Regions from separate parts of the Homo sapiens genome. Here region 1 is reported to be linked to region 2. Evidence: microRNA targets listed by miRTarBase, many of them from high-throughput screens and not tested one by one. Region 2 holds a microRNA gene; the other region holds the end of a gene's coding sequence.
The links. The annotated mature microRNA hsa-miR-548ap-3p reads AAAAACCACAAUUACUUUU and lies in region 2 at 3,495-3,513, shown strand. An mRNA with a match to its seed (bases 2 to 7 or 8) in the 3' UTR can be bound and repressed. Matches are read on the target gene's strand: a 7mer-m8 pairs with bases 2 to 8, a 7mer-A1 pairs with bases 2 to 7 and ends in A, and an 8mer does both.

Region 1: the mRNA of CDC6 is a reported target of hsa-miR-548ap-3p. Seed matches in the 3' UTR shown: 7mer-A1 at 1,793-1,799 and 7mer-m8 at 3,359-3,365.

What each region holds. Positions count from the first base shown.
Region 1 is chr17:40,300,754-40,306,138 of GRCh38, forward strand. CDC6 (cell division cycle 6) reads left to right here. Exons shown (of 12, transcript NM_001254.4): 10 at 75-277; 11 at 715-855; 12 at 1,159-3,904. The coding sequence ends at 1,248. Among named protein-coding and RNA genes, the nearest start is that of RARA, 5.7 kb to the right of the region's middle.
Region 2 is chr8:123,344,594-123,349,978 of GRCh38, forward strand. MIR548AA1 (microRNA 548aa-1) reads left to right here and starts at 3,441; the gene lies at 3,441-3,537. ATAD2 (ATPase family AAA domain containing 2) reads right to left here. Exons shown (of 28, transcript NM_014109.4): 14 at 4,692-4,851; 15 at 3,590-3,680; 16 at 2,499-2,813; 17 at 2,025-2,157; 18 at 1,493-1,679; 19 at 291-476. MIR548D1 (microRNA 548d-1) reads right to left here and starts at 3,537; the gene lies at 3,441-3,537.

The DNA.
Region 1 (5,385 bases), not on the chromosome of region 2:
TCATCTGTCTCATCATACATACACACACACAGTATTTTAGAAATCGAATTAAGCTTGGCTTATTTACTTTATAGGTAAATCACCTTCTGAGCCTCTGATTCCCAAGAGGGTTGGTCTTATTCACATATCCCAAGTCATCTCAGAAGTTGATGGTAACAGGATGACCTTGAGCCAAGAAGGAGCACAAGATTCCTTCCCTCTTCAGCAGAAGATCTTGGTTTGCTCTTTGATGCTCTTGATCAGGCAGTTGAAAATCAAAGAGGTCACTCTGGGGAAGGTAAGTTGGGATGGAGCAGATGGAACGGAGGTAGAGATCAGAATCTGCTTTGCAGAGCAGGTATTTTCCAAAAGGCCTATGATACTTCAGCTGATAATAAATTTAAAATGGATTTTAACAGTAAGAATTAATACTGGTACTATATAAAAGGCACCTATTTCCCTTGGATTGTGGTTGAGAGTTTATCATTAATCCTTTCCCTATCCTCCCCTTCATTTCTGCATCTCTCTAGGAAATATATAAAGCCCCTTTCCTACATTACTGTATAGGTTTTCGGGAATATCTACAGAAGCCTGTTCAAAGATTTTATTGAAAAGAGGAAGAAATAGGGTATTCAGATAAGTTTTTGCAAACCCAGACTCAGGTTTCTTAAATGATTAAAGGCTATAAGCAATGTGACTTTTAAGCAGCGTTTGTTCTCCCTTGTTTCCTACCAGTTATATGAAGCCTACAGTAAAGTCTGTCGCAAACAGCAGGTGGCGGCTGTGGACCAGTCAGAGTGTTTGTCACTTTCAGGGCTCTTGGAAGCCAGGGGCATTTTAGGATTAAAGAGAAACAAGGAAACCCGTTTGACAAAGGTACAACTGCTTTTTTGTGACAGTGTTTTTAATTGTCCTATTTTGTAGAGTGATGCTAAAGTAAAGGTTTATTGTTAAACAAGATGACCACAGTTAGTTAAACAAGTCGTTTTTTGTTAGGTAAGGTTTAAGGTGTGTAAAGATGGGAGTGTGATATGAATATTTTTTCAAGCCATTGGAAAAAAAAGTGTTTAACTTGCTTGCCTTTTGTGAGAAAAAGTTTAATATGGTAGAAGTTTGTATACTGACAACTTTGCTTTTGTGAGTTCCCCAGTGTGAAAAATCCTTTTCTCTTCTTTCCAGGTGTTTTTCAAGATTGAAGAGAAAGAAATAGAACATGCTCTGAAAGATAAAGCTTTAATTGGAAATATCTTAGCTACTGGATTGCCTTAAATTCTTCTCTTACACCCCACCCGAAAGTATTCAGCTGGCATTTAGAGAGCTACAGTCTTCATTTTAGTGCTTTACACATTCGGGCCTGAAAACAAATATGACCTTTTTTACTTGAAGCCAATGAATTTTAATCTATAGATTCTTTAATATTAGCACAGAATAATATCTTTGGGTCTTACTATTTTTACCCATAAAAGTGACCAGGTAGACCCTTTTTAATTACATTCACTACTTCTACCACTTGTGTATCTCTAGCCAATGTGCTTGCAAGTGTACAGATCTGTGTAGAGGAATGTGTGTATATTTACCTCTTCGTTTGCTCAAACATGAGTGGGTATTTTTTTGTTTGTTTTTTTTGTTGTTGTTGTTTTTGAGGCGCGTCTCACCCTGTTGCCCAGGCTGGAGTGCAATGGCGCGTTCTCTGCTCACTACAGCACCCGCTTCCCAGGTTGAAGTGATTCTCTTGCCTCAGCCTCCCGAGTAGCTGGGATTACAGGTGCCCACCACCGCGCCCAGCTAATTTTTTAATTTTTAGTAGAGACAGGGTTTTACCATGTTGGCCAGGCTGGTCTTGAACTCCTGACCCTCAAGTGATCTGCCCACCTTGGCCTCCCTAAGTGCTGGGATTATAGGCGTGAGCCACCATGCTCAGCCATTAAGGTATTTTGTTAAGAACTTTAAGTTTAGGGTAAGAAGAATGAAAATGATCCAGAAAAATGCAAGCAAGTCCACATGGAGATTTGGAGGACACTGGTTAAAGAATTTATTTCTTTGTATAGTATACTATGTTCATGGTGCAGATACTACAACATTGTGGCATTTTAGACTCGTTGAGTTTCTTGGGCACTCCCAAGGGCGTTGGGGTCATAAGGAGACTATAACTCTACAGATTGTGAATATATTTATTTTCAAGTTGCATTCTTTGTCTTTTTAAGCAATCAGATTTCAAGAGAGCTCAAGCTTTCAGAAGTCAATGTGAAAATTCCTTCCTAGGCTGTCCCACAGTCTTTGCTGCCCTTAGATGAAGCCACTTGTTTCAAGATGACTACTTTGGGGTTGGGTTTTCATCTAAACACATTTTTCCAGTCTTATTAGATAAATTAGTCCATATGGTTGGTTAATCAAGAGCCTTCTGGGTTTGGTTTGGTGGCATTAAATGGCAATTTGTGACTGAGACACCAGAGGGCACCCTTATAACATTGACTACTTTGAAAGGGGATGCTTGAGGCTGAGGTAGTTTTGAGGGAAAGGGGGAAGTTCTAGTTTGATTTGTTTGGGAGATTGCTGTCCTTTCATAACTGAAGCAAATGCTTGAAATGTAAACCATGTGTGATACGAATGATCTGAGAGCCAGTGACCAAGTCTGCTTTTCCCTGAGCTCTCCTGCTGCCGCCTCTACCTTTCTGACATGGCCTTCCATTTGGAACTTGATATGTGTACAAGTGATCTGTTGGCCACTGTTTCATTCATCCTGACCACTGTATCCGTGTAATGTGATCTGAGCTACAACAGGTGGTATGGGATAGAGGCAAGGAAAGCAGAGAGAGCCCTCTGAAATGAACACTACCCACTGGTGTGTGTAGCACATGATAGTCTGTAGGCATGAGTCTGAATGTTGTTCTCACACTCCTTTACTAGAGTATTCGTTCCCTCTGAAGGTAGTTTGAACATGGAAACACAGTTCTATACCTAGAAGGTTGGAAAGTGTCTGGGACTATAAGGGTTAACATGCATAATTGCAAAGATTGTCCGAAGGCTGATGGAAAGCAGAGACTGAATGGGATTGAGAACAGATGCGAAGCTTGATTTAAATTACATTTTATTGGATGCTGCAGCCTTAAGAGACGTGACTGCTTTACAGTTTGTTTCCACACTGTGGGCAGCTGCTGTCTGTTCTGTGTCCACAGTAGGATCCTGCCCAATAAGGAGCAGCCTCCCCACCTCATTGTGTTTGAGGCTTGGCGCCTTCCTCTTAACTGTAGGGCTTGAGTCAGGAACATGGCTTGACTCGCAGTGGGGCTGCTATGTATCCTCCCTGGCTTCCAGCCAAAATCACATTGGTAGATTCAAAGGGGCCAAATTTCTTTCCCCTCTATCTTTCCCTTTCCCCTGGTTTTGGAAATAGAGTTTTCTGTCTACTGATTTGTTAGTTTCCTTTTCTTCTCCCCTCACTGTCAATTTCTAGGTCATTGCTGCTCTTAAGACTTTAGCAGTTGGAACAGGGTTGGTTCTGTCAATGATGCATGAAGCAGACTTAGTGTCCCTGCTTGGCTTCTGCTGCCCTTGTGGGAGCAAAAGCTGATATATGTTTGTCAGTAAAGTCTTAAGTGTAATTCAGACTGCTGAGGAAGAAAGCCCTTTCCTTGCTGGCTTTTCTCCCTGAAGCTGAGAGCTTCAGGAAGGTGGTAGGAGTTTTAGTGGGATGGGATGGGATGGGCTTGTGGTTAGCAGTTTTTGCCAGGATCATAGGCTGCTTCACTTAGAGTAGTGGCAAAGATGCTGACCTACATTCTTCCTTTTGAAGGTGATGGAGTGTGTGTCTATATCCTGGTTTATCTCTCTCCCCCACCCCAAGGAAGCTGATTAAGCTTCCATAGAGTGTTGGGTGTTGCCATGGAAAGAGCATAGACAAAATAAATTGTGTGTTTCAACCCCAGAGCTGCCACAGATGTTTCTGGCTCAATGGAGACTTGCCTGTGGCTAGCTAACTCTGCAAGAATGTGTGAGGTCCAGGCTGGGGGTGGTGGCTCACGCCTGTAATCCAGCACTTTGGGAGGCCGAGGCGGGCGGATCACCTGAGGTCAGGAGTTTGAGACCAGTCTGGCCAACATGGCGAAACCCTGTCTCTACTAAAATAAATTAGCCAGGCATTGTGGTGTGTTCCTGTAATTCCAGCTACTGGGAGGCTGAGGCAGGAGAATCGCTTCAACCTGGGAGGCAGAGGTTGCAGTGAGCCGAGATCGTGCCATTGCACTCCAGCTTGGGCAGCAGAATGAGACTGTCTCAAAAAGGAAAAAAAAAAATGCTGGGTGTGATGGCTCATGCCTGTAATCCCAGCACTTTGTGGGGCCAAGGCGGGCTGATCACTTAAGGGTCAGGAGTGCAAGACCAGTCTGGCCAACATGGCGAAACCCTGTCTCTACTAAAAGTACAAAAATTCACTGGGTGCCATGGTACACACCTATAATCACAGCTACTTGGGAGGCTGAGACAGGAGAATTGCTTGAGCCTGGGAGGTGGAGGTTGCAGTGAGATGAGATCATGCCACTGTACTCCAGCCTGGGTGACAGAGTGAGACTCTGTCTCAAAAAAAAAAAAAAAATGTGTGAGGTCTAAGCTACCCAGAGATCAAAAAGTTGGCAGAGCCTTATTCTCTCTGCGCCCCCTCTTTTGCATTGCTCCCTACCTTTACTAAGTGTCCCTTTGAATATACATCAAGCCAGGTGTGGTGGCTCATGCCTGTAATGCCAACACTTTGGGAGGAGGCAGCAGCGGGAGGATTACTTGAAGTCAGGAGCTTGAGACCAGCTTGGGCAATATAGTGAGACCCCCTTACCCTTCTCTACCAAAAAAATCTTAAAAATCAGCTGGGCATGGTGGCATGCACCTGTAGTCCTAGCTACTTGGGAAGCTGAGATGGGAGGATGCTTTGAGCCCAGGAGTTCAACTCGGCATGGGCTATGATCACACCACTGCATTACATCCTGGGTGACAGAGCGAGACCCTGTCTCTATAAAAGACAGAAAGCAGATACACCAATAAGAATGAGAAGTTGGGAATAAGATGTGATTTAGGTTTTATATATATATTATATACATATTATATATATTTTATATATATAATGTATATTATATATAATATACATATTATATATTATATACATATTATTTATATATATATATATATATATTTTTTTTTTAGATGGTGTCTTGCTCTGTCACCCAGGCTGGAGCAGTGGCGCGATCTCTGTTCACTGCAAGCTCCGCCTCCCGGGTTCACACCATTCTCCTGCCTCATCCTGAGTAGCTGGGATTACAGGCACCCGCCACCATGCCCGGCTAATTTTTTTGTATTTTTAGTAAAGATGGGGTTTCACTGTGTTAGCCAGGATGATCTCGATCTCTTGACCTCGTGATC
Region 2 (5,385 bases):
ACCTCGGCCTCCCAAAGTGCTGGGATTACAGGCGTGAGCCACTGCACCCGGCATATAATACCATTTTTCAAGAGAAAAAATTTATGTATCCTTAATATATACATACACATATACATATACCATCTTGCCCAATGAGCACATATACCAAATAGTTACCAATGGTATATTTGATAAGAAAACTTATCCTTTTATTCACTTCTACAGCATTTGAATTTTTTCAATAAGTTATGATTATTGTGGTAGAAACAACTCTTTTTGAAAGTATAATGATACCGCCCCACATAAATTACCTCTTCTGGCAAAGCGGAATGGGGTTTGTCAGAAGTTGCAAGTAGTAAAACTGGAGCAAATGAAGGAATATTCTGTAATAATGTGGTAAATGTGGCTTTAAGTGTCGGTCCAACTATTTCCCACCACACGTGGATATGAGGAACATACACTATACTTGGTGCTGTTCTCTTAGCTTCACGAATCACCTAGTAGAGAGAGAACAAAACAAATTCAGTTAGAGTCAGCACGTTAATAATGCTAGTTCTATTAGTCTGAAACAATGTTTAACCTCCCAGGAGTAACATATAAAGTCCTCAAGTTTTTAAAATGCTTCTCCAAAATCCCACAACCTTATTTTTAAATGTGGATTAAAAGTTTCATTTTTTTGGAAAAAGATAATTTCTTCAAGCAACTAGAAAACAGCTGGAGAAATCTAGAAGATTTTTCTATTGTGGTAATCAAAAGTAAACAAAACTACAAATATAAAATATTTTTATGTTTTAAAAATGTTAATATAGCCAGGCGCGGTGGCTCATGCCTATAATCCACGCACTTTGGGAGGCCAAGGCGGGTGGACTGCCTGAGCCCAGGAGTTTGAGACCATCCTGGGCAACATGGTGAAACCCCGTCTCTATTAAAATACAAAAAAAAAAAAAAAAAAAAATTAGCTGGGTGTGGCGGCATGCATTGCACCTGTAGTCCCAGCTACTCGGGAGGCTAAGGCAGGAGAATTGCTTGAACCCGGAAGGCGGAGGTTGCAGGGAGCCAGGATCGTGCCACTGCACTCCAGCCTGGTGACACAGTAAGACTCCGTCTCAAAAAAACCAAAACCAAAAACAAACAAAAAAAAGTTAATATACAAATACCAAAAACAGAAACTGCAGAATATCTGAGTACTTACTAAGGAGCAGTCACCATTTTAAGTACTTTACTCATTTAATTCTCACAACAGCCATGTGAGGTAAGTAGTATTATCTCCATTTTCCAAAAGGGGAAAATTAGAGAGATCTAACAACTTTACTAAGGTCACAAAGATATTAAGGGTGAATGTGGGATTTAAAGTCATTCTCTTTAATGACTAAGCAATCATGCATAACTCTGTTTTGTAAACCTAAAGTTACAAATCAGAAAGACAAAAAAACACAATACAAAAAAATGGGGCAATTTTAGCTTTTGCCTCTGAAAGCCTGTTTTGTCTTATACTTGGGCACCAACAAATTACCTGGGCACATGTTTCTTCAGGGGATGTAGTACTAACTCCAAAAAGAACAGGAATGTCTAATGTATATACAGTAAACTTTTCCAAAGCATGAATGACAGCTGGTGCCAAGTGAGAACCTTGCCCAAATCCTGGTTCTCCTACTATCAATATTCTTGGTCGAAAAGACATAGGTTGGTAACAAGCATTTCTGAAAGAGAAATGATTAATAAGCTATGTTTTAGAAAAAACAGTTTAAATTTTCCCCCTAAATTGTCAACTATAAACTTTCATAAGTAAAAAGTCTTGCCAATAAGGCCAACCAATCATAACATGGTTCACATAGTTTCTGGAAACTGACCCCCAAAGGTTTTTAGGAATATTTTTATAGACTGTAATTTCTACTGTTGTGACAACTGTAACAACAAAAAATTTCTGGTAGTTTAATTTAAATAAAAAGCAGATTGGTTAGCACTTTTTATTTTTTCAACCACATCTCATTTATTTTTAGAAAATTTACACATGCAAAAAACATTGATTTGCAAGAAAAATATACCTATTCAAATGAAGAAAATTAAAATTGTCTTTTGCCTTATGAGAAGATTTCTGAGAAAGTCCATTTTCATAAACTGATGGAACATCATCATCACTGTAAGCCAAGTCACTTTCTAGCAGAGGACAAGAAATATCTATAAAACCAAAAAATTGTACATTAGTAACTTTTGGATTGCAAAGCAAATCTTTATTGCTTCAGTTACCAAGTCAGCATACTTCAATTAAATTTTTTCAAAGAATCAAAAATATTTGTGTAGATATGAATTAATAAGTAAATGTAAAAATGCACCCCAAACTTACAATAAGTTAAATTAAGGGCAATCCATGGAGTAAATTTCCTTCAAATATCCCAGGTAAAGCATTACCAAATTCTTTTCAAGAGATTCTTTTACAAATAAATATTTCTGGTATGTATGAAACATTTCACTTTACTGATTATAAAAACTAACTTTAAATGGTCAATCAAGTTTTATACCTGAGTCTAATGTTTTATTTGTTCTGAATTCTGCATGTGGAAATACTCTCTGCAGGGCTTCTAAAATCTTGTCAACAGTGTTTTGCAGGAGTGGTTTCACAACGGTGGACAGTGCCTGCCCAGGTGATGTCACAGCTCTTTGGGAGGCTGGTATCATCTTTTGCATAGCTACCTCGAAATCCTTAGCTGAGATATTAATTGAAGAGAGATCCAACTGCAGTTTCTCACTAGTGGTATAGATCTGTGGGTAGCGTCGTCGTAAAGCACATAAAGCAGCTTCAGCACATATTGATTTAATATCTGCTCCACAGTATCCTATCCAAAGCAACCAGGGGAAGAAAAGAACCAGCCGACCAAACAAAGAAACACAAAACTCTATTAGCATGACCATGGTTAAAAAAAAAATTAAAAATCAGCCTCGGAATATAGTTAGCAAATATTTAAGAGTAATAAGACCAAAATCTCTTTTACCCAGTAAACTTATAGGGTAGTAATGGCCATCAACAATCAATCAACTTTTAAGAGTGCAATACACAAGCACTAAGTATAGCACAGAGGTCAAAAGCAAGAGTTTTAAAATCACACAGACTAGATTCACATTCCAGTTTGTAATTTACTAGCTGTATGACCTTAGAAGATTCACATAATGCTCTCCAGCCATTTCTTCATCTGTAGAGATACTGCTACCTACATCACAGGAATGATGTGAAAATTACATGAAATAATATATGTAAAATGCTTAAAAGGATGACTACAAAATGGTCAGTAAAGAATAGCTATTATCTTATTATGATATAATAATATATTGTATTTTGTACAATTATATTATTATCTACTCTGCCCCTGATGGCCAATTTGTCAAATATCTCTATTTAATACCAAGACTTCATGAGAAGAAAATGCCACAAATAAGAGATAAGAAACAAATATAACCTTGTATTTCTTTATTAGTCTGGTGCAAAAGAAACTGTGGTTTTTGCCATTACTTTTACAGGCAAAAACCACAATTACTTTTGCACCAACCTAATATAACTTGTTTCATATTTGAAATAAATGTAGTATTTATTTTAACTGCTTAAAACAATGTTTACCAACACAGTTTTCTGCTAGCTCTTCTAAAAATGTGTCCAGTGGTTTGGGATTCCAATCCCTGGTGTGAATCTTTAGAATCTCTTTTCGAGCCTATGAATAAAAACAATTTAATTTTTTACAACTATAATAATAAATGCTATTCAGATTACATTAATTTTGATTAAAATACTTTTGATTATCTAAAATTTTAAAGTGATCAGTACTTAATACTGGCCGGGTGCGGTGGCTCACACCTGTAATCCCAGCACTTTGGGAGGCCGAGGCAGGTGGATCACTTGAGGTTGGAAGTTCAAGACCAGCCTGGCCAACATGGTGAAAACCACTCTCTACTAAAAATACAAAGATTAGCTGGGCGTGGTAGCATGTGCCTGTAATCCCAGCTACTTGGGAGTCTGAGGCACGAGAATTGCTTGAATCCCGGGGACGGAAGTTGCAGTGAGCTGAGATTGTGCCACTGCACCCCAGCCTGGGTGACAGAGCAAGACTTTATCATAAACAACCAACCAAAAAAACTCAATATAAGCAAAATATGAAAGTGAAAATAAGAAAAAGGATGTACTTTTAAGAGTTTAATGAACTTAAGTCTCATTATTAAACATATTTGCATTTATAGCACTAAAGTTATATTCGTCATAAACACAAATAAGAGAAAAGTAACTACTAAAGTAGCTATTCATTCTGGTGCATATTAAGAGCTGTTTTTAAGAGTACAGACAGCTCTTGACATATTTTCCTCTTTGGTTCCCAGAAGATTAAGTAGACTTAAAAAAACTCGGTAGGATTATATGATGATATTCATGAAAAAGACAAGGCTAACAAACTGGCTAAGGATTGATTACTCATTAAGCCATATGTTCTGAAGCAACACTTAGAACATCCAAAGGCTACACTCAAATTGAAATAATTTTAAGAGTAATTTTGGGAAGGCATTATTATATTTAAAGAAAAGAATAAAAATTTGTCCCCATTTGAGTTGTTTACTATCATTTGACAAGACCATGATACAAAACTCAAGAATCTCCAAATTTTTACTATACCAAGACTTATTATTAATAAACAGCAATATATTTTGTCAAAATTTGAGTGACATTAAATTCTTACCTCTTTATCAGGCAGGCTAAAGAGGAATTCTCTATCAAAGCGACCAGGCCTTCGTAAAGCAGGATCTATAGAATCTAGCCTGTTCGTAGCACCAATGACCACAATTTCCCCTCTGCTGTCCAATCCATCCATAAGAGCTAGCAGGGTGGAAACAATAGAACTAAATTTTAAAAATAAGAGAGAAGAGATTAATACTATGAACACAGTCTATATCATTCAGTAATATTTCTTCTTTTGTAAGATTTAACGCATTACATGTGAATAAATTTTCTCAGGGCACCTCACTATTTCCAATGGATTAAAAAAATCTATAAAATAACATCCCAAATGGCCCACAGAAATTGAAATCAATGGAAAACAGACGGTTGTTAGACCCCCCACAAATGAATCCTAGAAGACATTTTATAAAGCATAATTTCACAAAGGAACTTAAGAGTTCTCAAACAATATATAACATCAAAAAGAAAAAAAAGGCAAGGCATGGTGGCTCACGCCTGTAACCCCAGAACTTGGGGGCTGAGGTGGGAAGAGTACTCGAGGCCAGGAGTTTGAGACCAGCCTGGGCAACATAGGGAAACCCCATCTCTATTAAAAAAAAAAAAAAAAATTAGCCAGCATGGTGACATGACCTGTGCCTGTAGTCCTACTACTTGGGAAGCTGAGGTTGTACGTAGTGAGCCAAGATTGCACCACT